4 linked regions of the Homo sapiens genome follow. The protein of the gene in region 4 purifies or fractionates together with the protein of the main gene of each other region. This does not show direct contact. Each region holds a gene or a part of one and is shown on either strand. Other genes may lie near its edges.

Region 1 (7,302 bases), on a different chromosome or scaffold from region 4:
CTTCGAATAAATGCACATTATACAAAGCTAGCGTTTATCTGTTTTGTTCATCTGAAGTGAACTTAAAATTGTAGGGTTCTATATTCATTAGATAGCATGTTGATTTCTTGAAGGGGTGGCACAACACAAAACTACAAAATCAATGTATCCTCAACTGATTTTTAAAAACCAAAAAATTGCGGGAAGAAAATGTACCTTGCTAGATCAAAAGTTTTCCACACAACCAACTTGAGGTCAAACAAACCCACGCAGAATCTTCAAAGAACTTCAGGCTGACCTAAAGCATATTTTTTGCTACAGCCAAATTAGAATACTTGCCCTATTTAGTTGTGAATATCTCAGTATAAATGACTTTACAAAAAATCTGGTAACTTTACAGACAGAATTTTACAACAGTGAAATTTGTTCCATAATATAAAATCCTACCAAATGAATAGAATCTATCATTTTAAGGGCATCAGGGATTTCTGCCTGTTGAAGAGTGGAGGATTGAGAAAGGAGCAGTGGCTCATGCCTGTAGTACCAGCTGCTCAAGAGGCTGAGGTGGTAGGATTGCTGGAGCCCAGGAGTTCAAGGCTGCAGTGAGCTGTGATCACACCACTGCACTTCAGCCTGGGCAACACAGAGTGACACTCCATCGCATGCATGCATGCAAACATACATACGAGTGGAGGAACACCTGCCATAATTAAGCCACTTAGAGAAAAAGAGACTTAAGTTAAAACAAAATTCAACATAGAAAAACCGTCACTGCCTATACAGCACTCATGTCAGAGTGTTCCATGAGGTCCCCCAAAATGCACCTACCGTCCCAGCCAGGATGTCATGGGGGCAGCAGTCCAGAAGGTGACTCTTGCAGACACGGTCATCTGTAAACTTGACCCTCTGTCTGGTTTCGTCTCCTGAAATTCATTTGTGGTTTTAAATAAGACAATATTATCACATTAACCACCAAAAAATAACTAGTATAACAATTCACCTGGATGATTTGCAGACTATCATTTCTGTGTTCTCCCCATCAAATGCAATGAAAAGCTGATCTAAAGATATTTACAACTGGAGTGGAATACACATTTTTTTGAGGCTAGTTATATCATGGAGAATCACACTTAATGAGATCTGACTCCATCACTGTACCAAAGAAGTCAAGGAGTCAGACGTAAACAGCTGAGCACCAAAAGGCCATTGGCTCCACATATACATGTGGCAATGAGACTGCAAAACCCAAGCTAATCAGAGGTCCATGAACCACCAAGGGTGACTTATAGAGCTGGTAATTTCCACCAACAAAAGCTACTTATTAATCTAATCTTTTTGTTATGAACAAATGCAGAGGCAGTATTTTGCCCAAAATTGAATGAAGAAGAAAGCTTTCAAACTCTATCGAAGACTGTTAAATAATCTAGATCTATTCTTCCTACGTCCCTTTCGTTCCCACCCTTAAAAAAGAGAGTTGCTACCTGGGAGTCACTTTTAACAAGACAATACCAAAAAAAGCAAAAAAGGAACTAGGTTAGTCAATACACACTGTGAGCTCCAACACATACTGTACCCATCTGCATTCTTCAAGACCTCAGCTGCAGAATTTTATGCCCGCTGTTGAAAAGTGTTAAAGGAAAAGTTTTCTTGCCCACACCTGCAGTAAGGAAGTCGGGGGAATGATACATAAAAGTAAAGGTAAAGTGGTATGTGACAAATTTTAAAGCTAGTCTGTGTATACAACACAGAGCTGTGCAACGCTAGAGGAGGAATATATTTTAGGATTTGCAAGCATCCAGGATTAATGTAGTGTCTTTTTATTGAAAATGTTTTCTTTCTAAACTACACTTTTAAAGTTACTTGTGAAAAAAAGCAAACACTTTTTTGTTATAACAGCTTAGAAATTGGTTGTGACTCACGGCTCGATGAACATGAGGCTTTCTGCAACTCCCTTGCAGATTGATGTAGGCAGGCAAAGATACACTGAACCTTTATAAATAAAATAGAGGGGCCACAATTGTTCAGTTTGTATGAAATAAAAATATGGGAAGCAATTCAAAAGCAACTCAATATACAAAGAAAGCTAAAAAGCACTTATTCACCTATGAAATAAAGTGCAAATAATCTGCACAGCCCTGAGAATGTGCCAGTGTGAACTTACAACTTCATTACTCAGCAGAAAAGAAAACACAAACCACAGCAGGTATATAGTTTTGCAAAGATGCAACCGCTTTCTCCTGTGACAACCATCATGATCTTGAGCTCCTCCCTACACAGTACAACCTACCTAACGACTGTCAAGCGCTGGCTACACAGAGGCTCTCCTGTGTGCTGGGGGGAAGGGGGCAGCTGGAAAAGTACTTGGCAGAAACCCACGTTAGAAAAGCTCAGTTTACGGTTCCCCTTGCAATGGTACAGAACCAGAGCGGGCCAGGTTTTCGAGGCCCATCCGGCTCCCTCGGGTGTAGCTTCTTCCCAAGGAGCCTCGGAAGAGTTCTGCCACCCGGCTGCCAGCGACCTGGAGCCCACGCTGATTCCAGCCCTCCGCCGACTCCACAGTTCGCGGAGGGGCACGGAGCCGCGGCGCCCGCCGGGGAGGAAGTAGCAGGACGGTACATAGGAAGGAGGCTGAAGCCCCATCCATGGCGCAGACTCCGAGAGAGGAGCCCGACCTGGACCCACGGCCGCCTCAGAGACGCACCGGCTTAGACAAAGGCCCGGCGCCTGCGGTCGGAGCGCGGGGGAGGAGGAGCGATGCCCCGCGCAGGCGCAGGCGCAGACGATCGCGGCCCCCGCCTCAGGCCGCCCGGCGGCCTCGCCTCACTCCCACCCCAGACCCTCGCCTGGTTGGCCGCTCTGACTCACCGTCCCGAGCCGTGCCCATGAGCTGGTCCAGCAGGGCCCGCATCTGCGCCTGGGCGGACATGGTAGCCGGCGGAGGCGACGGGGTCGGCCGCGACGACTTCTCTCAGGCAGGCGGTGGCAGCGGCGTCGACAAACGATGGTCGCGTCGGCCTCGAGCCCACTCGGCTCTTTCCCGCCGCGGGGGACGCCGGGAGGAAGTACGACGGCGCCGGCGCACGCCCTGCTGGGAAATGTAGTTTCTGGGGTGGGTGCTTAGGGAGGCTGAGGCTCTGAGTGGTCGCAAGTTGTCCAACGGCGGAACCAAAATCCCAACCCTGATTTTACTCTAGACCCCCAGGACCTCAAACGAGTCTCTACGGAGGGTAAACTACAATAAAATGAAATACAGTCAATCAAAAACAAGATGAATCCGTGCTTTTTCTAAGCTAGCCATGAAACCGTGAGCATATTATTTAGCTCCCCGACGCTCGTTTTTTTAAATCTGTGAAATGAGGGTTCTAAAGGTGCCCCTCATATGATTTTTGTGAAAGTTAAATAAAGCATGGAATTTTATTTATTTATTTATTTATTTATTTAGAGCGAGGGTCTTGCTCCGTCGCCCAGGCTGGAATGCAGTGGCGCGATTACCGCTCACTGCAGCCTCGACCTCCCCGGCTCCTTATCCTCCCGCCTCAGCCCGGCAAAGTATTGGGATTACTGGTGTGAACCACCACGTTTGGCCATCAGTCATGGCATTAATATTAGGTTCTATGATTACAACCTCGTGGTCGTCCTTTTGTGAGCTCATGGTCTACTGTCCCAGGGACTAAAGAAAAGGCATATGTAAGCAGTTATTTTATGTGATAATAGAATTATAGCATGCACTTATGTGTGCATAGTCTGGCATATACTTCTATTATATTAAACCTCTATTATTTATTTATTTATTTTTGAGACGGAGTTTCGCCCAGGCTAGAGTGCAATGGCGCGATCTTGGCTCTCCGCAACCTCCGCCTCCTGGGTTCAAGCGATTCTCCTGCCTCAACCTCCCAAAGTGCTGGGATTACAGGCATGAGCCACCACGCCCGGTCTTTATTTTTTATTTGTTTATTTTTTTTTTGAGACGGAGTCTTGCTCTGTCACCCAGGCTGGAATGCTGTGGCGCGATCTCGGCTCACTGTAAGCTCCGCCTCCCGGGTTGAAGCGATTCTCCTGCCTCAGTCTCCCCAGTAGCTGGAATTTCAGGCGCCCGCCACCCCCTCCGGCTAATTTTTGAATGTTAAGTAGAGACGGGGTTTCACCATGCTGGCCAGGCTGGTCTCAAAGTCTTGACCTCAAGTAGCCAGCCACCATGCCCAGCTGATTTTTGTATTTTCGGTAGACACGGTGTTGTACCGTATTGGCCAGGCTGGTCTTGAACTTCTGACCTTGTGATCTGCCTGCCTCGGCCTCCCAAAGTGCTGAGATTACAGGCGTGAGCCACCGCGCCCTGCCGTATTTTATTTATTTTTGAGACGGAGTCTCCCTCTGTCGCCCAGCCTGGAGTGCAGTGGCGCGATCTCGGCTTCCTGCATCCTCTGACTCCTGGGTTCAAGCGATTCTCTTGTCTCAGTCTCCCCAGTAGCTGGGATTACAGGCACCCGCCATCATTCCCGACTAACTTTTTTTTTGTACTTTTGCAGAGACGGGGTTCCGCCATGTTGGCCAGGCTGGTCTTAAACTCCTAACCTCAGGTGATCCGCCCACCTCAGCCTCCCAAAGTCCTCGGATTACAGCTGTGAGCCAGAACGCCAGGCCCCTGCTCTCTATTTAAAATAAATAAATAGGGTGTCCGTTGGGCTGCTCGGGTCGGATTCCGCGGTGCCAGCCCTTCCCCATGGCCGACCCTGAGAAGTTGCAGGTTTCTTCGCCGCCCCCGCCGCCTCCTTCTCCCTCCTCTTCAGACGCCTCTGCAGCATCTTACCCTGGCAGCCCAGTGAGTTTGGGCTGGCCAGTTCCGAGCAGGAGCAGCGGCCGAACGGTGGACCCGCTGGAGGAAGTGGGGCTGCAGATCGGAGACGCAGCCTTTTCATTAACCAAACTTCTTGAAGCCACATCTGCAGTATCAGCTCAAGTGGAAGAACTTGCCTTCAAATGTACAGAAAAGGCACGTTTCCTTAAAACGTGGCGGGACCTATGGAAAGAAGGCTATGATTCTTTGAAACCTGATGACTAATTTGGCATACTTCGTTGTTTAATAATGACTGCAATAATTCATACTTCTTCTTATGTCATATTTGTACGTGTACCACACGTATAGGATGACCTCTGTCCAGCAGTTCTGTATATACTCAGAATGAATTTTTTCTTGGTTTTCTTGGCTTTTCTGAAAGCAGAATACCGATGCTATTTTTGTTGCGGACCAGTACTTGTTTGTCCTTACATACTTCATGCCTCTGAACTTTCGTAGAATCCTTTATGAAAGTTAACTTCATCAATAGATGGTTAATATTAATAGAGCCACAGGGCTACCAGCAGCAAACTAGGTGGACCATTATTTGTTTTGAAACAAGATGCTAAGCATGGCAGAGTTTGAAGTTGCATTTCATCTTAAGGACCAAGGGAGGTAACTTTAAGGTTGCCAGTGGTGGATCCAGCTCCATTAGGCTACGTTGTCTACAGCTAATGATTGTGCTTCATTCTGTATCCCCAGCACCTAAAACAGGGTCACACAACACTCACTGTTGGTTGAATACAAGAATTAACAAACATAAAAATAAATAAATAAATATAGGCCGGGTGTGGTGGCATGTGCCTCTAGTCCCAGCCACTCGAAGCTGAGGTTGGAGGATGGATTGAGCCTGGGTGGTTGAGGTTGCAGTAAGCTGTGATCACACCACTGCATGGCAGCCTGGGCAAAAGAACGAGACCCTGTCTTGGCCAGGCACGGTGGCTCACACCTGTGATCCCAGCACTTTGGGAGGCCAAAAAAAAAAAAAAAGAATGAGACCCTGTCTCAAAAATGAAATTAAAACTTAAAAAACATGCCAGGCTGGGGGCAGTGGCTCATGCCTGTAATCCCAGCACTTTGGGAGGCCGAGGCAGGCGATCACCTGAGGTCAGGAGTTTGAGGCCAGACTGACCAACATGGAGAAACCCCATCTCTACTAAAAATACAAAATTAGCCAGGCGTGATGACGCATGCCTGTAATCCCAGCTACTCGAGAGGCTGAGGGAGGAGAATTGCTTGAACCTGGGAGGCAGAGGTTGCGGTGAGCCGAGAATGCATCATTGCACTCCAGCCTGGGCAACAAAAGCAAAACTCCCTCTCCCCCCGGCCAAAAAAAAGGCCGATCACAGTGGCTCACGCCTGTAATCCCAACACTTTGGGAGGCCGAGGTGGGTGGATCACAAGGTCAGGAGTTCAAGACCAGCCTGGCCAACATGGTGAAATCCTGTCTCTACTAAAAATACAAAAAAACTAGCCTGGTGTGGTGGCACACGCCTGTAGTTCCAGCTACTCAGGAGGCTGAGGCAGGAGAATCACTTGAACCCAGGAAGCGGAGGTTGCAGTGAGCCAAGATTGTGCCGCGGCACTCCAGCCTGGGCGATAAAGGGAGACTCCATCTCAAAAAAAAAACAGGCCGGGAGTGGTCTATTTTGACACTCCACCTCAAAAAAATTAATTAATTAAAAAATAAAATTTAAATTTTAAAAAATCATTTCACAAATGATAATTTAATATGATTGCTGCCCTGGAAGGGGGAAAAAAGACTTACTCTAAGAATACAACAAAGACTGTTCATGGGCTAGAAGCATCAAAAGTCCAGACACGGTTAGACAAGTTTTGTTTTCATTTATTTTGAGACAGAGTCTCACTCTGTCGCCCAGGCTGGAGTGCAGTGGCGCGATCTCAGCTCACTGCAAGCTCCGCCTCCGAGGTTCACACCATTCTCCTGCCTCAGCCTCCCAAGTAGCTGGGACTATAGGCGCCCGTCACCACGCCTGGCTAATTTTCTTGTATTTTTAATAGAGACGGGGTTTCACAGTGTTAGCCAGGATGGTCTAGATTTCCTGACCTTGAGATCCACCCACCTCGGCCTCCCAAAGTGCTGGGATTATAGGCATGAGCCACTGTGCCCGGCTGACAAGTTTTAAATAATGTTTTAAGGCATGACTTTGCTTCCAATTGGCCATTTGAACAAAGCAATTAAATCATCTGAATTACGCACCTACCAAACTGCCACAGTTACTAGAAATCAGACAACTGCCAGGCACAGTGGCCCATGCTTGAAATCCCAGCACTTTGGGAGGCCAAAGCAGGAGATCACTTGAGTCCAGGAGTTCAAGACCAGCCTGGTTAATATGGCAAAACCCCATGTCTACAAGAAAGGAAAAAAATTAGCTGGGCATGGTGGCTTACAGCTGTAGTCCTAGCTACTCCGGAGGCTGAGGTGAGAAGATCACTTGTGCCTGGGAAGCAGAGGTTGCAGTAAGCTG
Region 2 (5,505 bases), on a different chromosome or scaffold from region 4:
GCCTGGGTGACAGACTAAGACCCTGTCTCCGAGAAAAAAAAAAAAAAAAAAAAAGATTAAAATGGCCCCTGCACAAGGATGACATGCAAATTCATCAAGCATTCCATATAAGAAAAATTCCTTTCACATACTATGATCAGTAGCGCTTAACTGAAATTACTGAAAATTACTTTCCCCTCAAGCATTCATTATACCCCCATTACTACCCCTCCTATAGTAGAGCTTCAAGCCAATACTAGCCTTTTCTGTAAGCAACATGAATATTGTTCAGATTTTCCAGGTACAAATCAGTAGACAAAACTTAATTTGTATAAAGGATTTTAGTGCATACAAACTGTCATCAAATAAGGTGCTTTTTAACCAGGTTAAATTTTATGATCATCCCTTTAATTCACTATTTACCAACCTCTTTCCTGCCAGGGCACACAGGAAATGAAACATTTTGCTGGATAAGCCACAGATGAAGGTACTAGTGGTGGAACTGGCTCATGGATACAGATTGCTGTGCAAAGCTCTATGCATTTACTGTTTTAATAATTACTCCAATAAAAGGATTTTTAAAAAGAGATCTTTTAACACATCCACTTACACAAGTGAGTTATATACACACAAAAACTAACTGGAAATACTTCTTCACATTTTCACTGTAACCATTTACTTGTCAAGGGAAGGCAAAATGAATATTCAAAGTCAAGGCTAAAGCTACAGTGTTAAACTCAAAGAAGGATGCAATTTAAGTGCTCTCTTGTATAAAGCATCAGAAAGTTAATACAAGTACTAGTCTTAAGCAGTCACACAAGTCTAAGCCACATTTATTTGCACATGTATAGTAATGGCCAACAGATACTCCAAGTTCATACAAATTTGTAAAACAACAAAGTTAATAATCACTTGGTACACTTGTGTGTTATCTTGCTTACATATTAAAACCTAGATGAACTTCCTTCATTTTGTGGACTTCCATACAATACTTCCTTAAACAAAATTCTTGAAAACACATATCAGCATGTTTAAGTTAGAGCCAACACAAAGTTAAGACAAGACACAAACTCAAAAACCAAGTTTGAAAGATACTTTTCTACCTCCCTCCCCTAGAAAGAAGTGATTTTCTTTAACAGATGTATGTTATATCACACAAGTAACCATGAAGACAAAAGAATGACGCTCCCATCATCAGGAAGAAAATGCCAACCAGATCATACTGTTTAGTTATCTACCGAACATATGGTTAAAATATGAGAAACGGGGGAAAATGCTTAGATTAAAATAACAAGGGAGAATAGAAAATAGCAAATGATTTTAAAGAGAACTGTTCCCCCTCAAAGCTGCAAAGCTCTGACTCTGACAACTAAAAACTGTCCAAGGCAAATAAAAACGAGGAAACCTTCAAAAACATTCTAATCACGTGCAGTATCTAGTGTTAAAAGCTGAAAATGATAAAGAGGATATTTATTATACAAGTGTCAACGAGGACATCCCAAAAATAATGAAATAAACACACATTTATTTCTACAAAAGCAATGTATGATACAGAATTAGAAGGGAACAGACTTAAAGATTTGCCTATTAAAATATACAGATTCTTACTGAAGAGTATAGGATATTTAAAAAAGATGACAAGGGATGTTAATCTTTTTTTATTATTATCATTTTTACATATTTTGGAACCTCACATAATTTTGATAAATAACTCTTACAAAATTATGCAAAAAGTACAAGAATGTCTGGTAAACAAACAGTCTGTATTTTCCAAAAAGATTTTTTACAACATGCAATTCTTAAGGCAGCATCCTCTTTACAAGGAAAGGTAATCCTTTTTTATCAAGAAATCTTCTGCTGCAAAGAATGGCTAAGAAAGCCTGGCTTCTTCCATTAACGCCTTTTGTCTTTCCTGTCTGATTTTCGGTCTCTTTCACTTCTTGAAGATCTTTTGCCTGATCGACTACTCTCTGATATAGACCTCTTTCTGTCGGACCGGGAATTCTTATCCTTTGATCCTTTTGTATCTCTACTACTACCACCTTTTGAAGATTTGTGACTTCTTTCTAGTCCTGAAGTATCCCTTCTCTTCCGATCCACGCTCCTTCTGTGCTTTCTATCTCTATTATGTCCCCGGCCCCTACTCCGACTTCTACTCTCACTACTACTACTAGTGCTACTGCTACTATCTCTGCTGCTGCTGCCACTTGTACTGGAGCTGCTACTGGAACTACTGCGACTGCTACTACTTCCACTGCTGGAACTACTTCCACTGCTGCTACTGGTTGAACTGCTACTAGAACTGCTACTGCTACTGCTTCGACTTCTACTCTTGCTTGTTTTATTTCTAGCTCGACCTCTACTTCTGCTCCTAGTTTTGGTTTTGCTCTTGCTCTCTGGATGTACTGTCAAGACTGGCTCTACTGGTACCTCAGTGAGTTTTACAGACTCTACAGGAAAATCCTTCCTCTCAGGTAGTAAATGCCCTTGCTCCTGAGTAACTTGGGGTGTTGGCTGTAAAACAGCTAATGACAAATCCTCAGGCTGAGAGGGAGGCTGGGACTGGAGTACTGGTTGGGACTGGGATTGAAGCTGAAGCTGGGGCTGAGACTGAGGCTGAGGTTGAGCCACAGGCTCAGGTTGGGGCTCAGATTCTTTTTCTTCTTTTTCCTCAGACTCCTTTTCCATGTCTAAAGCACTGACATTCTCTTTCCCAGGAGAAAGGGTTTTACATTCTTTATCTGGCTCAATTTCAAATTCCATTTCTGGTTCCAATTCTTTGCTAGCTTCATTTTCTGAAGGTTCTACACTTTCAACTCGATTAGTTTCCATTACCTCCTGGTCAGCAATTACATGTTTGACATTCTCAACCATCTCTAGCACATCCATAACTTCTTCAGGCTGACTATCCTGCTGCTTCTCACTTTCCCTTACCTCAGTTTCCTCCTCCATCTTAACCTCCATTTCCTGTTTTTGTTCTTCCTCCTCCTGTTCTTTCTCTGCATCACTATGAACAATCGCTATTTCCTTTTCCTCTTCCTCTCCTGCTTCCTCTATTTCTACATCATTGTGCTGATTACCTGTCTCCTCCAACTCTTCCTCTCGCTGAGCCACCTTACCCTCTTCTTGTTCCGCCTTCTGTTCTTCATTACGCACCACCTGATGCTCTTTTTCCTTCATTGATTGTCTTCTAGGCCTAGCCTCCATTTTATTTATTTGTTCTGCAAATTCGATGCGTCTACCTTCAAATAAAGCTAAAGAATAAAAATTTACATGTGTAAAATTTACCGATTAAGAAAATTCAAAGCCATAATTTTATAACTGGTCACAAATTGTCATTAAGCTTCATCTGAATTTGTTTTTGTAAAGTTATGACAAAAGATTATGGCAATTAAGTAACCACAAACTGACATAAAATTATAAAAGCAAAGATCCATGGGAAATCTACATACTAGAAATTGTGGCAGACAGAACTACACATTTTCTAACTGATGAAGAAAACAGATCAATCTTTATGTCTGATGAAAAATAAAACTTCTGTAAAACAGAACCAGTTTTGGCATAAAATCATATATATTAATTTTTCTGATCCCAAAGAGATAAATCATCATCTTAGCAGTGTCTATCCTTCCATGTGTTTTCCATCTAGAAACTGAGTTGGTTTTCACATTTGTCTTATTAGCATTTTATCAGAACAATAATAGCATGCAAAAAAAAGTAATTTTACACAAATGCTTAAGGAATACAGATGCATAAGCACTGTCTATAACTTTCACATTAAACTCCATCATGATACAAATATTCCTATACTACAAACTCACCAGCATCTCAGAATGTATCTTTTTTTTTTTTTTTGAGATGGAGTCTAGCTCTGTTGCCCAGGCTGGAGTTCAGTGGCGTAATCTCGGCTCACTGCAACTTCTGCCTCCCAGGTTCAAGTGATTCTCCTGCCTCAGCCTGCCAAGTAGCTGGAATTACAGGTGCCCACCACCATGCCCAGCTAATTTTTTTTGTATTTTTAGTAGAGACTAGAGACGGGGTTTCACCATGTTAGCCGGGATGGTCTCGATCTCCTGACCTCATGATCTGCCTGCCTCAGCCTCCCAAAGTGCTGGGATTACAGGCGTGAGCCACCACGCCCGGCCTAGAATATCTTATTATCTTATTTAAAAAAAAAAAGCAAACACAGCAAACCAATCACTGAATCATAATTATTTTAGAAAACAAACGTGTGCATATGAACATATTACCTTACCCACTATGAACAATTCAATGGACCTCTTCGCATACTTACCGTTCATTTTTCTCTGTGACTCTTCTATTAGTTTTTGGGTAGCTGGACACATTCTTCCAGGAATATAAAACAAATGGGGCTTTGTCTTAGTTCTTATATATTTAATTATTTTGGCATTATGTTCATTCCATTCTTCTTGCTAAAGAAAAGGTAAAGGGTCAGTGCTTTTGTAAACACAAAGGATTACCAATCTTAGAATTCCAAATTACCACTCACCAGCTGCGCAAGCTCAACTTTCTGTTCCAAAAGCCGCAGTTCTGTCTGTTTAGCACGCCTCTCTTCAAACAGTTCTCTCCTTTCATTTTCAACCTGCTTTCTCTCTTCTTCTGCCTGAACTTCAAGTTTTTGTTCAATTTCCTGGCGCCGCTTTTGCTAAAAGTTAAGTAGCCTGCTTTAATACTTACGTGTTGAAATAGTTACAACAAAAGGTATATATGATTTCAGTTCAATTATGATAAAAAGTTATTACACATACTAATTACGTGAAACATTAGAGGCAGGTAGATCATCTGAAGTCAGAAGCCAACACCACCATCTCTACTAAAAACACAAAAAAATTAACAGGGCGTGGTTGCACGCACCTATAATCCCAGCTACTTGGGAGGCCGAAGCAGGAGAAATCACTTGAACCCCAGAGGCGGAGGTTGCAGTGAGCTGAGATCACGCCACTACACTCCAGCCTGAGCAAGAAGAGCCAAACTCCATCTCAAAAAAAATTTTTTTTTTTTTTTTTTTTTTCACTATGTAAAGGTATCTGCAGGCCGGGCACAGTGGCTCACACCTGTCATCCCAGCACTCTGGGAGGCTGAGGTGGGTGGATTGCTTTGAGCTCAGACCAGCCTGGGCAACATGATAAAACCCCATCTCTACAAAAAAAAAGAAAAAGAAAAAAAAAAGGTATCTGCATATGCTTCACATTTTTTCTTTTTTTGAGATGGAGTTTTGCGCCTGTTGCCCAGGCTGGGGTACAATAGTGTGATCTTGGCTCATTGCAACCTCACCTCCAGGGTTCAAGTGATTCTCTTGCCTCCGCCTCCCAAATAGCTGGGGATTACAGGCGCATGCCACCACAGGCGGCTAATTTTGTATTTTTAGTAAAGACAGGGTTTCACCATGTTGGCCAGGCTGGTCTCGAAAAACTTCTGACCTCAGGTGATCCACCTGCCTCAGCCTCCCAAAGTGCTGGGATTACAGGCATGAGCCACTGCACCTGGCCGCTTCACATTTTCAAT
Region 3 (6,111 bases), on a different chromosome or scaffold from region 4:
TGACAAGGGGCTGAAAATATGCCGGACAGTCACTCAGGTAAGGCTTCTGCACCCCAGTGTCAGGGGAAAGGTGGGAGCAGTAGATGCAGAGCAGCTAGCTGAGGAGCTGAGATAAAGTCTTTGGAGGGAACTTCCCTGTCTGTGCAGAGGGTTGGGTTGACTGACACTTTCAGGGGTCAGACTACCAAATCCAGCTGGCTACCTGTTACAAATAAAGTTTGATTGGAACACAACCACACGAGTTCATTCACTTTTGTCTGTGGCTGTTTGTTCACTACAACATCACCAGAGTTGAGTAGTTGCAACAAACTATGTGGCCTGCAAAACCTGAAGTACTGCTTTGCTCTACAGAAAAAATTTACTAACTCCTGTCTTAGTTTTCCTCAAGGCAAAGTTGAGGCACTAACAATCCCAGGATCTGGTAGAAGTGAGCCGATAACGAAATACCCCTAGCGGAAGGAACATGCTAGATTGACTGCTACTCTTACCGGGGAACCAGAGGCTGAAAAGAATATGCCAGTTTGGTGTTTAACAGACCTGCTGTGTTCTCTGACACCTTGATAGGTAGTACCTGCAGAGGGCCAGGAGAATGGGCAGAGGGAAGAAGAGGAAGAAGAGAAGGAACCTGAAGCAGAACCTCCTGTACCTCCCCAGGTGTCAGTAGAGGTGGCCTTGCCCCCACCTGCAGAGCATGAAGTAAAGAAAGGTGAGTGACATATTGTGAGAGAAATGTAATGCGGCTCCCTGAATTCTCAGAGCACCTCATTTGGATCGCTGAAAGCTTTGAATGTTTCCTGCCTTTCATTATATTTTTTCGTATATCATATCTTTCTCCTACATATTAAGTAAGCTACTTGAGGGCCAGATTTGACTCTGTTTAATCTTTGAATCTCCATGATGAGGAGGTTAGCCTAGCACAGTACTTTGCAGATTATAGGTGCTCTGCACGTTTAGATTAAGGAGTGGCTGCTTGGTATAAAAGAAAGGGAACCGTGAGAGTTACATTGAGGGTGAAAAGAGCCAGTATTGCTTCCTACCAAAAGCTGTTCTTGTGGTCTTCTTGATAGTGACTTTAGGAGATACCTTAACTCGACGTTCCATTAGCCAGCAGAAGTCCGGAGTTTCCATTACCATTGATGACCCAGTCCGAACTGCCCAGGTGCCCTCCCCACCCCGGGGCAAGATTAGCAACATTGTCCATATCTCCAATTTGGTAAGTCATTGTTTCTCACCATCCCAGCTTGCTTAGTGGTTAAGTTTGAGCTTTAGGCTTATGCCTCCTAGGTTCCACTCATAGTTGAACTGGTCTACCAATAGATTAAGTTACTCACTGATCTTGAGTGAGTTACTTAACATATTTACCCATCTAAAAATGAGGGGGAAAAGCTGTTGCCCTGCAGGGTTGTTTTGAGGACTTGCAGAAGGCCTCACATACAACGTCTCAATTAGTGCTGGGAAGCACCACCACTCTTCTCACATTCTTACTGCAAGGTTCCTAAACTCTCTGCCCTCCCCCAAACCTTGAAACTATACTCCTGTGACAGCAGCTCGGGAAATCTAAAGATTGGGTGGTGGTCTTGCCTTCTGCTAGACCCTGAAAGTCTATTTTCATTGGCAGGTCCGTCCTTTCACTTTAGGCCAGCTAAAGGAGTTGTTGGGGCGCACAGGAACCTTGGTGGAAGAGGCCTTCTGGATTGACAAGATCAAATCTCATTGCTTTGTAACGGTGAGGGGAAGAAGCTGATTCTATAGGTCATGGCATATATTTCCTTTTGTGACCAGTGTGGGCAGGTTTAAGGGTGTTGCAGCACGTGGGAAGGGTTGCAGACACACTGTGACCCTCCATCTTCTCCCTTCCTCCACCAGTACTCAACAGTAGAGGAAGCTGTTGCCACCCGCACAGCTCTGCACGGGGTCAAATGGCCCCAGTCCAATCCCAAATTCCTTTGTGCTGACTATGCCGAGCAAGATGAGGTAAGAAACCTAGGGAGAGGAAAGAGAGGAGGGGCAGGGGAAGCCATTATCTGCTAGATTTCAGCTGAGATCCTTGCCAGACCTGCAGTCTCTGAGCTTCTGTTCTTTTCTCTTCTTCCCTGGCTTTGGTTCCTTTAATTGTACCATGGGGCTTCAAAGTGGTACCTGGGCTCCTTTTTTTTTTTTTTTTTTTTTTGAGACAGAGTCTCGCTGTCTCCCAGGCTGGAGTGCAGTGGCGCGATCTCAGCTCACTGCAAGCTCCGCCTTCCGGGTTCACGCCATTCTCCTGCCTCAGCCTCCCGAATAGCTGGGACTACAGGCGCCCGCCACCACGCCCGGCTAATTTTTTTGTATTTTCAGTAGAGACGGGGTTTCACCGTGTCAGCCAGGATGGTCTCGGTCTCCTGACCTCGTGATCTGACCGCCTTGGCCTCCCAAAGTGCTGGGATTACAGGCGTGAGCCACCGCGCCCGGCCATCCTGGCTCCTTGAGTGGGAGTGATATCACCTCTATCCTAACTGTCCTTGTCCCTCCTCTCCCCACAGCTGGATTATCACCGAGGCCTCTTGGTGGACCGTCCCTCTGAAACTAAGACAGAGGAGCAGGGAATACCACGGCCCCTGCACCCCCCACCCCCACCCCCGGTCCAGCCACCACAGCACCCCCGGGCAGAGCAGCGGGAGCAGGAACGGGCAGTGCGGGAACAGTGGGCAGAACGGGAACGGGAAATGGAGCGGCGGGAGCGGACTCGATCAGAGCGTGAATGGGATCGGGACAAAGTTCGAGAAGGGCCCCGTTCCCGATCAAGGTCCCGTGACCGCCGCCGCAAGGAACGTGCGAAGTCTAAAGAAAAGAAGAGTGAGAAGAAAGGTAGGTACTTAGCTATGGGGTACGCATACCCACTAGTAGGTGGGAAAGGGACCCAGATGGGATGGGACAGAGGGTCAGATGCATCATATCTGGTTCACTTTTTTCCACCTCAGAGAAAGCCCAGGAGGAACCACCTGCCAAGCTGCTGGATGACCTTTTCCGAAAGACCAAGGCAGCTCCCTGCATCTATTGGCTCCCACTGACTGACAGCCAGGTGAGTGCTCTTCTTCGTGCCCTGCTCCCTAGTGGCACTGAGGCTTGAGGTCAGGGTGAGGGGAGATTCATGTGACTGCGAGAGTGAGTCGGCCCAAGTACTTCCTAGGTTTAGGATAAACTAAGCATCACAAAAAGGCAGTTTTCAGTTAATTGGTATAACATAGAGAAACCAGACTCAGGAGGGTAAAGATAGACACGCAGATAGCAGCTGAAGTTTGTGGATGTCTGGGAAGCTGGCTGTGCCGACCAGGCTTCTTAGAACTTGATTTTAGGCCGTGCGTGGTGGCTCACGCCTCTAATGCCAGCACTTTGGGAGGCCGAGTCGGGTGGATCACCTCAGGTCAGGAGTTGCAGACCAGTCTGGCCAACATGGAAACCCTGTCTCTACTAAAAATAACAAAAATTAGCCGGGTGCAGTGGCAAGCGCCCGTAATCCCAGCTACTTGGGAGGCTGAGGAGGAGAATTGCTTGAACCCGGGAGGCGGAGGTTGCAGTGAGCAGAGACCGTGCCATTGCACTCCAGCCTGGGCAACAAGAACAAAACTCTGTCTCAGACAATTAAAAAAAAAAAAAGAACTTGATTGTATTTAGCTGAGAAATCGTGTTTTATAAATTCATTTCCCTGCTTTTTAAGAGTTTTTGCATCTTTAACTTAGTTTCTTAGTAATGGGCCTTTTGGGAATTTTAGGCTTATGCTACTCAAAAAAGAGATTTGTTCACATCTACGCTGACGGTAGGGAGCTAGGGAAATACCAAGGGCCAGGCATGGATGGTGCCAGTACCTGTCAATGTGTGTAAAAGTTGAAACTTGGTGGCTAGGCATGGTGGCTCATGCCTGTAATCCCAGCACTTTGGGAGGCTGAGGTGGGCGGATCATCTAAGCCTCCATCTAAGCCAGGAGTTTGATACCATCCTGGCCAACATGGTGAAACCCCATCTCTACTAAAAATACAAAACTTAGTGGGGCATGGTGGCAGACACCTGTAATCCCAGCTACTAGGGAGGCTGAGGCAGGAGAATCACTTGAACCTGCGAGTCGGAGACCACAGTGAGCCAAGATAGCACCACTGCACTCCAGCCTGGGCGACAGAGTGAGACTGTCTCAAAAAAAAAAAAAAAAAAAAACTGGCGGGGCGCGGTGGCTCACGCCTGTAATCCCAGCACTTTGGGAGCCTGAGGCGGGCGGATCACGAGGTCAGGAGATCAAGACCATCCTGGCTAACAACGGTGAAGCCCCGTCTCTACTGAAAATACAAAAAAATTAGCCGGGCGTGGTCGCGGGCGCCTGTGGTCCCAGCTGCTCAGCAGGCTGAGGCAGGAGAATGGTGTGAACCCGGGAGGTGGAGCTTGCAGTGAGCCGAGATCGTGCCACTGCACTCCCAGCCTGGGCGACGGAGCGAGACTCCGTCTCAGAAAAAAAAAAAAAAAGGCTGAAACTAGGAGGGAGAGAGGTGCTCTAAGAAAGACAGGATGCAGTTGTTGAGCCCCCAACCCCTTCCTGTTTAACTGAAAAGCTGACCCTGAGCTAGGAGGCAGGGTCCAGGCACAAATGGAGGCTGTGACCAGGACTGAGCTGCCTATTCTCTGCCTTTCCTACCTGGCTACAGATCGTTCAGAAAGAGGCAGAGCGGGCCGAACGGGCCAAGGAGCGGGAGAAGCGGCGAAAGGAGCAAGAAGAAGAAGAGCAAAAGGAGCGGGAGAAGGAAGCCGAGCGGGAACGGAACCGACAGCTGGAGCGAGAGAAACGTCGGGAGCACAGTCGGGAGAGGGACAGGGAGAGAGAGAGAGAAAGGGAGCGGGACAGGGGGGACCGAGATCGGGATAGGGAAAGGGACCGAGAACGAGGCAGGGAAAGGGATCGCAGGGACACCAAGCGCCACAGCAGAAGCCGGAGTCGGAGCACACCTGTGCGGGACCGGGGTGGGCGCCGCTAGCTGGGAAAACACTAGAGCTGCAGGTACCAGCCACTCGGCCCCAGGGGGTTATGGCCACAGAGGGATAGGCACAGTCTCCACCACCCTGGAGCCAAGGGTCTTTCACATCACCTATCCCTACATACATACCAAATGGAAAAGTGGCCATCCTTTTCCCCCCAAACACACCCCCTTAACCTATCTCTTGGGACTTAGCCCGACCCTCCCTCTCATTTCCCATTAAGTCTGAGAGGCAAGAGCTAGGTTAGGCAAGGAGGTGGTTGGCCAGAGATGGGGAACAGCCAGGTGCCCCAGTCCTCTGATTTTTCCTCCATCCTGCTTACCACCTCCCTGGGTACTTACAGCCTTCTCTTGGGAACAGCCGGGGCCAGGACTGGGTCACCTATGAGCTGAATCAGCATCTCCTCCTGAGTCCCAGGGCCCCTGCAGTTCCCAGTCTCTTCTGTCCTGCAGCCCTTGCCTCTTTCCCACAGGTTCCACTTTATATCCACCTTTTCCTTTTGTTCAATTTTTATTTTTATTTTTTTTATTATTAAATGATGTGGTCTATGGAAAAAAAAATAAAAATCTGACTTAGTTTTAAACTGTGTGAGTGGCTTTCTTTGGGCAGGTTAAGAAGCCACTGTGGATATCTGAGCGTGGACATCTGAGGATATCTGGAGTAGGAGTTGCTCTCATTCCATGTGTTCCTTTAGGCTGACTGCTTCCTGCTTATTGAACTTCCCACGTCTTTTATCCCCTGCCTTGGCCCTGACCAACCCAAAGCTGTGGACCTTCCTCATTCGGGAAGGCATGGAGCAACCTGTGTCCGTGGCGGCACCCCAGCAGGGCTAGGAGGGTGGGTCCTCTTCTGGTTCCTGGTCCTGTGCACGGTTAAATTAGGGGTTTGGTCACCTGCCTGCCACCTTGGTGCCTCCCACAACTACCACCAGGGGGCGGCAGCTCCTCGCTCTGTTGGCCCCTGTAACCGAGCTTCCCAAGAAGGGTTCCACTGCCCGCCTCCGACCTCCCGCCGATGTCGTGCCTCTGTTCCCGACCCGCTCCCTGGGCCCGGGCCTCGGACTCTCTGGACCCTTCTGCCGTCCTTAAGTGTCCCCCAGCTGACCTGCTACCGTGC
Region 4 (7,953 bases):
GCTTTGCCGCCTCAGTCACTCTGAGTCTCGGCCCCGCCCCGCCGCCCCCGCCTTCAGCACTAGGGACAGCGACCAGAGCTGAGGTCTGGACCCCCCGCCCCCTTCAGCGTCCCTATTTTTCCTGGTAGTCTGTCATGCTGAACTAGGCAGGTGCTAAGGAGCGGGTGTGGGGATGGGAGATGGCGGAGCTCGGCTTCTCCCTCAGACTGGCCCCGATACTTAGAATATAATTTCCTAGATCTCCAGCAAGCAGGACTGGAGGAGGCAGGGGTCCCAAACTCTGGTAGTTCCTTTGGTCCGGATGGGGTCCCGGGTTCCTGAAAGAGGAAATCCAGGTCTCTGGAGATCCCCTGATGTCTGCTTGCCCCTTCTGGTGCCCCCAGCCTGTCCAGGCACGGAGGACCTCCGGCAGGGGATACCCGCCCAGGAATTCCCAGGCTAGACTGGTGCAAGTGACTCTCCCGCCCCACCAAGGGACCCCGGGCTGGAAATGAAGTGACCGTGGAGGGTGGGGCGGGCCGGGTCCCGGTGTCGCTGCCCGCGAGGGTGGGATTGATGTACCCTGCCCTCCCCGCCAAGCCCCCAATACCGGAAGTCGCTGTAGGGGTGGATGATCCAGGCCCCCGCTGACTTCACCCGCTCCTGCTCGATTTCCACTGCTTTGTGGCTGCCGAACACCCGAAGGGAGAACTTGTTGACCGTAGGCTGGAGCAGCGTCCCAAGGTGCCTCCTCTTAGGCTCAGGCCCAGATTTGGGGATCGGACCTGAGGCCGCGGTCGCAGGCGGGGGAGCAACGGGAGGCACCGCCTCCAGTCCAGGGGTCGCCCCTTCGCTGGCCCCCGCCGCCGGCCGCTGCTCTGCCTCCATGGCGCCCACCCCGCTTACACGCTCGGCCTCCTAGAGCCCTCTGTGGCCATCAGGTACCCGCAACCCCTCCAGAGCAGGAGTCGGCGCAGCCCCGCGGGCTCTAGCGGAGGCGTCGTAGGCTCGGAATCGCCGGCGCGCGGGGCGGAGGGGGTGTGTGCTAGACTGGCGGGCGGCGGGCGGGCTGCGCGGCGCCCCCTGGCGAGGGCCGCGCCAAGACCGGGCGGGGCTGGGACGCCGGGATCCTGGAGGAACTCCGAGAGGGGCGTGGCTTAGCAAAGAAGGCGGGGAGCGCAGCCTGAGCCAGGGAGAGGGCGTGGCCTAGCGTTGGCCTTTCATCCACTGAGAACCAGGGAGGAGGAGCCCCCTGCAGTGGCGGGAAAATCGGACGCGGGTTTGTAGCTTGAAGGACTTGGGAGGGAGAGGGATTGGGGACCAATGGAAGAAGTGGAAATGGCTTTTGGGATTCTTCTCCACTCTCGCCCAGGGACTTCTGTCCTGCTCCCGTCTTCTCTCAACACTGTCCTAGGCATATTCTTGTCTTTTGGTCTCCTCCGAACTGCTTCCCCTAGTATTTAATTTCCTAATTCATTCTGTCAGCCTTCACCAAGTGCAACTCTGCCTGTCATTGAGTGGATGCTGAGGAAACAAAAATGAATACAAAAGTCCTAGTCTTAGCATCTCCATGTAGTAATGGAAAACAACACAAAACAAAACAAAAACAAAGGCCTAGCCATAAAGCCACTGCTCATCTGTGCCCAACGACAGACAGGTAAATTGCAGTGCTATGCGAAGTGCTACAAATTCCTAAATATCTCAAATTCTCCCCTTCATCTCCAATTCTTATTACCACTGCCTCATTTCAAGCCCTCAGCATTTTTTCACTTAAATTACTTCGGAAACCTCTAAAAGAGTCTTCAACCTCTTCCAGGCCAATTCTTCTTCCATTCCCTGCCAGTTACCTTCCTAAAATCCAACTATGGCTGTGTCACTTGCTTGAAGCCCATCAAGCTTTCCCATCTTCTACAGGGGTACATTTAAGCTGCTTAGCATGGTGTACCAGGCCCAAAAAATTTGGACCTAGTTTCAACAGTCTCTCTTCTGACAGTCCCTCTCTTGAAAGCCACAGCCCCAATCATGCTGAAAGACTTTGTGCTGCCTTGTCTCTATGCTTTTGCAAATATTTTCTCTGCCTGGTATTCTCCTCCAATTCACTTTCGAACAGTTGGTTCAGATCTTGCTTTCTCTAGGAAACCTAGGAACACATTTCCAACTCTCCTTTCCTCAGGTAGGGTCTATTCTAGAGCTTTTTTACAGCAGCCAGGGCACCACTGTTTTGAGCAACTCATGTCACAGGGCTACCATTATTATTATTATTTTAGAGATGAGGTCACACTATGTTGCCCAGGCTGGTTTTGAACTCAGAGCTCAAGTGATCTTCCTGCCTTGGCTTCCCAAAGTGCTAGGATTACAGGCATGAGCATGGTCTCATTATTTATTTACAGATTTTCTCTCCTGTTAGATTGTGAAACTCTGAGAAACAGGAACCTTGCACCTGGCATAATTCTGGACACATAGTGGACATTCAGTAAATGCTTGTTGAATGAATTAATAATCTAGGAAAATGTTCCAGGAGGTGGAAGTGAAATCTTTACTTCTCTCTCCCCGACTCCTTCATTGATTGCTCTCCATGTTCTATTCCAGGGAACTTCTCTAAACTATGTCTGGTTATCTGATCTAACCTCCATCTGACCATCCTTCATCCAGCTCCTCTCTAATATTTCCTGACTTTATTTATTTACTCATTCTAGAGTCAGGGTCTTGCTCTGTTGCTCAAGCTGGAGTGCAGTGGTGTGATCATGACCCACTGCAGCCTCAAAGCAATCTTCCCACCTCAGTTTCCTGAGTAGCTGGGACTACAGGTGTGAGCCACCTTGCTCAGCTCCCTGACTTTAATATCGTTATTCTCAGATTATATTATTTCTCTTTCAATTGACCTTTCTGACCACTTCTCAATTCCTTCTGTAAAGTCTCTAACTCTTTCTCTTTCTCATTTTCTTTTTTTCTTTTCTTTTCTTTTTTTTTTTTTTTTTTTTTTGAGATAGAGTCTCACTCTGTCGCCCAAGCTGGAGTGCAGTGGCACGATCACGGGTCACTACAGCCTCAACCTCCCCAGGCTCAGGTGATCCTCCCACCTCAGCCTCCCGAGTAGCTGGGACTACAGGTGGGAGACACCATGAATGGCTAATTTTTATTTTTTATTTTATTTTATTTTAGACACAGTCTCACTCTGTCGCCCAGGCTGGAGTGCAATGGCACCATCTCGGCTCACTGCAACCTCCACCTTCTGGATTCAAGCGATTCTCGTGCCTCAGCCTTCCAAATAGCTGGGATTACAGGCACCTGCCATCACACCCGGCTAATTTTTGTATTTTTAGTAGAGACAGGGTTTCACCAGGTTGGCCAGGCTGGTCTCGAACTCCTGTGCTCAAGTGATCCACCTTCCTGGGCCTCCAAAACTGTTGGGATTACAGGCATGAGCCACCGCGCTTGGCCTAATTTTTGTATTTTTTTTTTTTTTTTTTTTTTTTTTTTTGAGACGGAGTCTCGCTGTCGCCCAGGCTGGAGTGCAGTGGCGCAATCTCGGCTCACTGCAGGCTCCGCCCCCTGGGGTTCACGCCATTCTCCTGCCTCAGCCTCCCGAGTAGCTGGGACTACAGGCGCCCGCCACCTCGCCCGGCTAATTTTTTGTATTTTTAGTAGAGACGGGGTTTCACCGTGTTAGCCAGGATGGTCTCGATCTCCTGACCTCGTGATCCGCCCGCCTTGGCCTCCCAAAGTGCTGGGATTACAGGCGTGAGCCACCGCGCCCGGCCTTGTATTTTTTTAAGAGTCTGGGTTTTGCCCTGTTGCCCAGGCTGTCTCAAACTCCTATGCTTAAGTGATCCACCCACGTTGGCCTCCCAAAGTGTTGGTATTACAGGCGTGAGCCACCTCGCCCAGCCTTCCTGTTCTTTTTTAAGATTTAGTAAACTGGCCAAGCGCCGTGGCTGATGCTTGTAATCCCAGCACTTTGGGAGGCCGATGGGGGAGGATTGCTTGAGCTCAGGGGTTCAAGACTAGCCTGGGTAACAAAGTGAGGCACTATCTCTACAAGAAAAAAAAAAATAGCTGGGCGTGGTGATGCGCGCTTTTTTTTTTTTTTTTTTTTTTTTTTGAGACAGAGTCTCGCTCTGTCACCCAGGCTGCAGTGCAATGGCCCGATCTCGGCTCACTGCAACCTCCGCCTCCCGGGTTCAAGCGATTCTCCTACCTCAGCCTCCTGAGTAGCTGGGATTACAGGCGCCCGCCACCATGCCCGGCTAATTTTTGTATTTTTAGTAGAGACGGGATTTCACCATGTTGATCAGGCTAATCTCGAACTCCTGACCTCGTGATCCGCCCGCCTCGGCTTCCCAAAGTGTTGGGATTATAGGCGAGAGCCACCGCGCCCGGCCCTAGTAAACTTGTATTTCTCACACATTATGTAAGCCACCTTAGGATACAGTTCTCAAGTAAGTCCCCCTTTTCGGCACCCGATTCTCCAACCCTCCATTGCTCAAACCTTTCCTCCATGGCTGTGTCCCCACCCCGAGTCGTGCATAACTTTTGTTGATGACAAAAGGTGGCAGACTTTTGTCCTGGGGATAGGTAGGTGAAGTGTTTTAAGAAATGGTTATTTTCAGGCTATGCAGAAGAATGAGACTTCACCATCAAGCCTCACTACAGTCAGGCTTGCAGAGCAGCGACACTGTATTGACAATGACAATCCTTTCTTTTAAACTCCAAACCTAACTAAGCCACACGTCTCCATGCAAAGGGTAAAAGATTGAAGACGGAGTGGGAAAGGACAGGAGGCGGGGCATAGCGGGCCTGGAAGGCTTCCAGCTTGTCCCTGTGGACCCTCCTCGCCCCTATGAACTTCCGCCCCCAGTACCTCCGAGGCTCTGACAGGCGGATGCCTGCCAACTACGTGAGCACGTGGTGGCGCGCGCGGTCCTGGGGGCGGAGCCCAGGGGGTAGCTGGGAAGCGACGCAGGACGTCGGTCCGTGCGTACGTGCTCGCTCACGGCGGCGGCGGCGGAGCGGAGAGGCCAGAGCCGGAGACCGAGCTGGGATCGGGCCCCGGGCGGGGGCGGTGCGAGCGGCGCCAAGCAGATCTTAGGGGCGGGGACGGAGCCGGGGCGGGCGGGACTGAAGCGGAGCCCGGGAACGGGGCGGGAGGTCCCAGGGTCCCGGGTTGGGGGGGTGGAGCAGCATTTCGTCGCCGCGGGGGTGCCGGGACTCCGGCCGCAGTGTCGCCGCCATCACGGACTTCCTGTGGGACAAGCGCACGGGCCTCGCCGCCAGAACGGTGAGCGCGCGGGTTGGCTGGCCGCGCGAAAAGATGGCGACCGCGGGGCGGGCGGGGTTAGGCTTGGGTTGGGGGCAAGGGACGGGGGCGAGATTTGGAGAGGAGGAGAGTTGAGACCTACGAAGCGACGGAGTAGGGAGATGAGGGGGAAGGAGGTCGGCCTGCGTTAGATGTACCAAGAAGACCTGTAGGAAGCTTGGGCGGAACCAGACTAGAAGGGATGATAGAGTAAGGATGGGAGTGGTTCCAGAGATGTGAAGGAGTGGAATATCAAAGTTGGACTCGGGTCCAATCAAAGCTGGAGGGGAGGAATACATCACCGTGTCACTTGGAACATGCAGGAAGAATTTGCCTGTAGGAGTTCTGGATTTTCTGAGTAAGAAAGGAAAAAGCAAAAGATTTCAAACTTGAGAAAGGTAGGCTAGTGATGTTTTGAGGGGACAGTGCTGTGAGGCCGTTTGATGGTAGTATGTGGTGAGATGGCATTTATGTGGCTATGCTGATTAGGATAACTATGCTGGGAAAATCTTGTGCTTGCAGCTTGGTATGCTACCGGCCCCAGTTACACCAAGAATGCATCAAATACCACCCTCCTCAATTTGGGGAGGTTGGGAAGAAGTGATACAGAATGGTGGTCAGACATCGGAATCATTAAACCTTTTGCATACGCGATTCTCATACACCCCCACCAAGACTTATGTCCCTGGGCCTGTTTCATTTTATTGTGCCTTCCTATTCTCATCTTCCTGGATTGTGACAGTGATTTTTCTCTTTTTTCCTTGAAGGAAAAAAAGGATTTGTGAACCATCCCATTCCAATTCCATTAACTGGAAGGTGGCCAGCTGTCAGCTAAGTAGGGCTGATATTAATTAAAAACCACTTACTGGCCAGGCGCGGTGGCTCACATCTGTAATCCCAGCACTTTGGGAGGCCAAGGCGGGCGGATCACCTGAGGTTGGGAGTTCGAGACCAGCCTGACCAACATGGAGAAACCCTGTCTCTACTAAAAATACAAAATTAGCTGGGCGTGGCGGCGCATGCCTGTAATCCCAGCTACTCGGGAGGCTGAGGCAGGAGAATCGCTTGAACCCTGCAGGCGGAGGTTATGGTGAGCCGAGATTGCGCCATTGCACTCCAGCCTGGGCAACAAGAGCAAAACTCCGTTTCAAAAAAAAAAAAAAAAACACAAGAAACAGTTGTTATCTACGTCTTAAGCACAAGAGTGGAGGGGCCAGATGGGATGCTGACTGTATTTTGTGGCCTACTACATTAAAACCTCTCAAGGGAGAGTTGGCCAAAGATGTGAGAGATGATTAAGTTAATTCAAGGGGCCCGACCCAGATCCCTGGAGCTGATAGTATTTGGCGTTTACCTGGTATATGTAGAAACCTGGGAGACTGGATTCCTACCCTCAGGACACTGATAGTCTACTTGAGGAGATGAGATGTACTCTTAATGAGTGTACAACATTTATCATAACTGTAAACCAAAGCTTTACTCTATTGACTTGTGAGGAACTCAGCATCACACAGATCTATATCTTAGATCCTGAACGGGGATACACTGTGGCAGTCTCCATCGGTCGTCATACACTTTGCTCTGTAGTGAACTGTGTCCTAGACCTGAAGGTCTTCATGGAGCTGTGTTTGAAGAAAATAAGGATAGAACACTTGAACTGGCTGGGTGCGGTGGCTCACGCCTGTAATCCCAGCACTTTGGGAGGCCGAGGCAGGAGGATCACGAGGTCAGGAGTTTGAGACCATCCTGGCCAACATGGTGAAACCCCGTCTCTACTAAAAATATAAAAATTAGCCAGGAGTGGTGGTGCGTGCCTGTAATCCCAGCTACACAGGAGGCTGAGGCAGGAGAGTTGCTTGAACCTGGGAAGTGGAGGTTGCAGTGAGCCGAGATTGTGCCACTGCACTCCAGCCTGGCCACACAGCGAGACTCTGTCTCAAGAATAAAATAAGAACACTTGAACTGAGGGGTGGGTAATGAGGGATGGGTTTGGGGGCTTTCTAGAGTTTCAGCCAGAGTTAGTAGGTGGCTGTACTCCAATAAGGAGGAATTGTAAGTACAGAGGAAGACTGAGGAAGTTGTGCCTGGTAAAAAGAGGCAGAAATAAGAGGGGAAAGCAGCTTAGCATCTTTGGAGCAGCCAGTCCTTGGAGGAGATTTCTGAAAACTCGAAACTTTCCTATTTCCGCTTTCCCTTGCCTTCCAGATGCCGCATCCTCGAAGGTACCACTCCTCAGAGCGAGGCAGCCGGGGGAGTTACCGTGAACACTATCGGAGCCGAAAGCATAAGCGACGAAGAAGTCGCTCCTGGTCAAGTAGTAGTGACCGGACACGACGGCGTCGGCGAGAGGACAGCTACCATGTCCGTTCTCGAAGGTGAGGCCTCAGGAAGAGATACTCAAACACAGGGTCACTCGCTCATTCCTTTGTTCAACAAATACTTATTGGTTATATGCTAAAACCATTGCCTTAAGTAGCTGGCTGAAGGTAATGTCGGGATAGATAACCAAAGAAGCCATTTGGGCTGCAGTGTTAAGTGTTAGAATACATAATGAGGAACTGAGGACGTACCCAGTGCGTTTGGTTGGAGTGGGGCAGGATGTTAATTCAGATAAAACATTGCAGAGAAAGCAACATCTGTATATGTCTGGAGGACAAGTAGAGTCAGGTGGGGGAAGT

Evidence for each region.
Region 1: the proteins of CLK2 (region 4) and LUC7L purify together in Homo sapiens (affinity purification with mass spectrometry; 4 studies listed by BioGRID and IntAct, with this or other methods). This does not show direct contact.
Region 2: the proteins of CLK2 (region 4) and PNN purify together in Homo sapiens (affinity purification with mass spectrometry; 4 studies listed by BioGRID and IntAct, with this or other methods). This does not show direct contact.
Region 3: the proteins of CLK2 (region 4) and ACIN1 purify together in Homo sapiens (affinity purification with mass spectrometry; 4 studies listed by BioGRID and IntAct, with this or other methods). This does not show direct contact.

Annotation. Positions count from the first base shown.
Region 1 is NC_000016.10:226,435-233,736, forward strand, and holds the start of LUC7L (putative RNA-binding protein Luc7-like 1), read right to left. Parts: upstream 3,016-7,302; 5' UTR 2,906-3,015; coding exon 2,845-2,905; intron 1,969-2,844; exon of another isoform or gene 903-1,968; coding exon 808-902; intron 1-807. UniProt on the Homo sapiens protein: May bind to RNA via its Arg/Ser-rich domain.
Region 2 is NC_000014.9:39,178,231-39,183,735, reverse strand, and holds the end of PNN (pinin), read right to left. Parts: intron 4,646-5,505; coding exon 4,490-4,645; intron 4,413-4,489; coding exon 4,274-4,412; intron 3,234-4,273; coding exon 1,873-3,233; 3' UTR 516-1,872; downstream 1-515. UniProt on the Homo sapiens protein: Transcriptional activator binding to the E-box 1 core sequence of the E-cadherin promoter gene; the core-binding sequence is 5'CAGGTG-3'. Capable of reversing CTBP1-mediated transcription repression.
Region 3 is NC_000014.9:23,058,031-23,064,141, reverse strand, and holds the end of ACIN1 (apoptotic chromatin condensation inducer in the nucleus), read left to right. Parts: coding exon 1-37; intron 38-564; coding exon 565-706; intron 707-1,067; coding exon 1,068-1,213; intron 1,214-1,618; coding exon 1,619-1,726; intron 1,727-1,866; coding exon 1,867-1,974; intron 1,975-2,519; coding exon 2,520-2,844; intron 2,845-2,957; coding exon 2,958-3,058; intron 3,059-4,667; coding exon 4,668-4,994; 3' UTR 4,995-5,578; downstream 5,579-6,111.
Region 4 is NC_000001.11:155,270,505-155,278,457, reverse strand, and holds the start of CLK2 (dual specificity protein kinase CLK2), read left to right. Parts: upstream 1-4,953; 5' UTR 4,954-5,257; intron 5,258-7,480; coding exon 7,481-7,650; intron 7,651-7,953. Other genes in the region: HCN3 (potassium/sodium hyperpolarization-activated cyclic nucleotide-gated channel 3), read right to left, coding at 590-867. UniProt on the Homo sapiens protein: Dual specificity kinase acting on both serine/threonine and tyrosine-containing substrates. Phosphorylates serine- and arginine-rich (SR) proteins of the spliceosomal complex.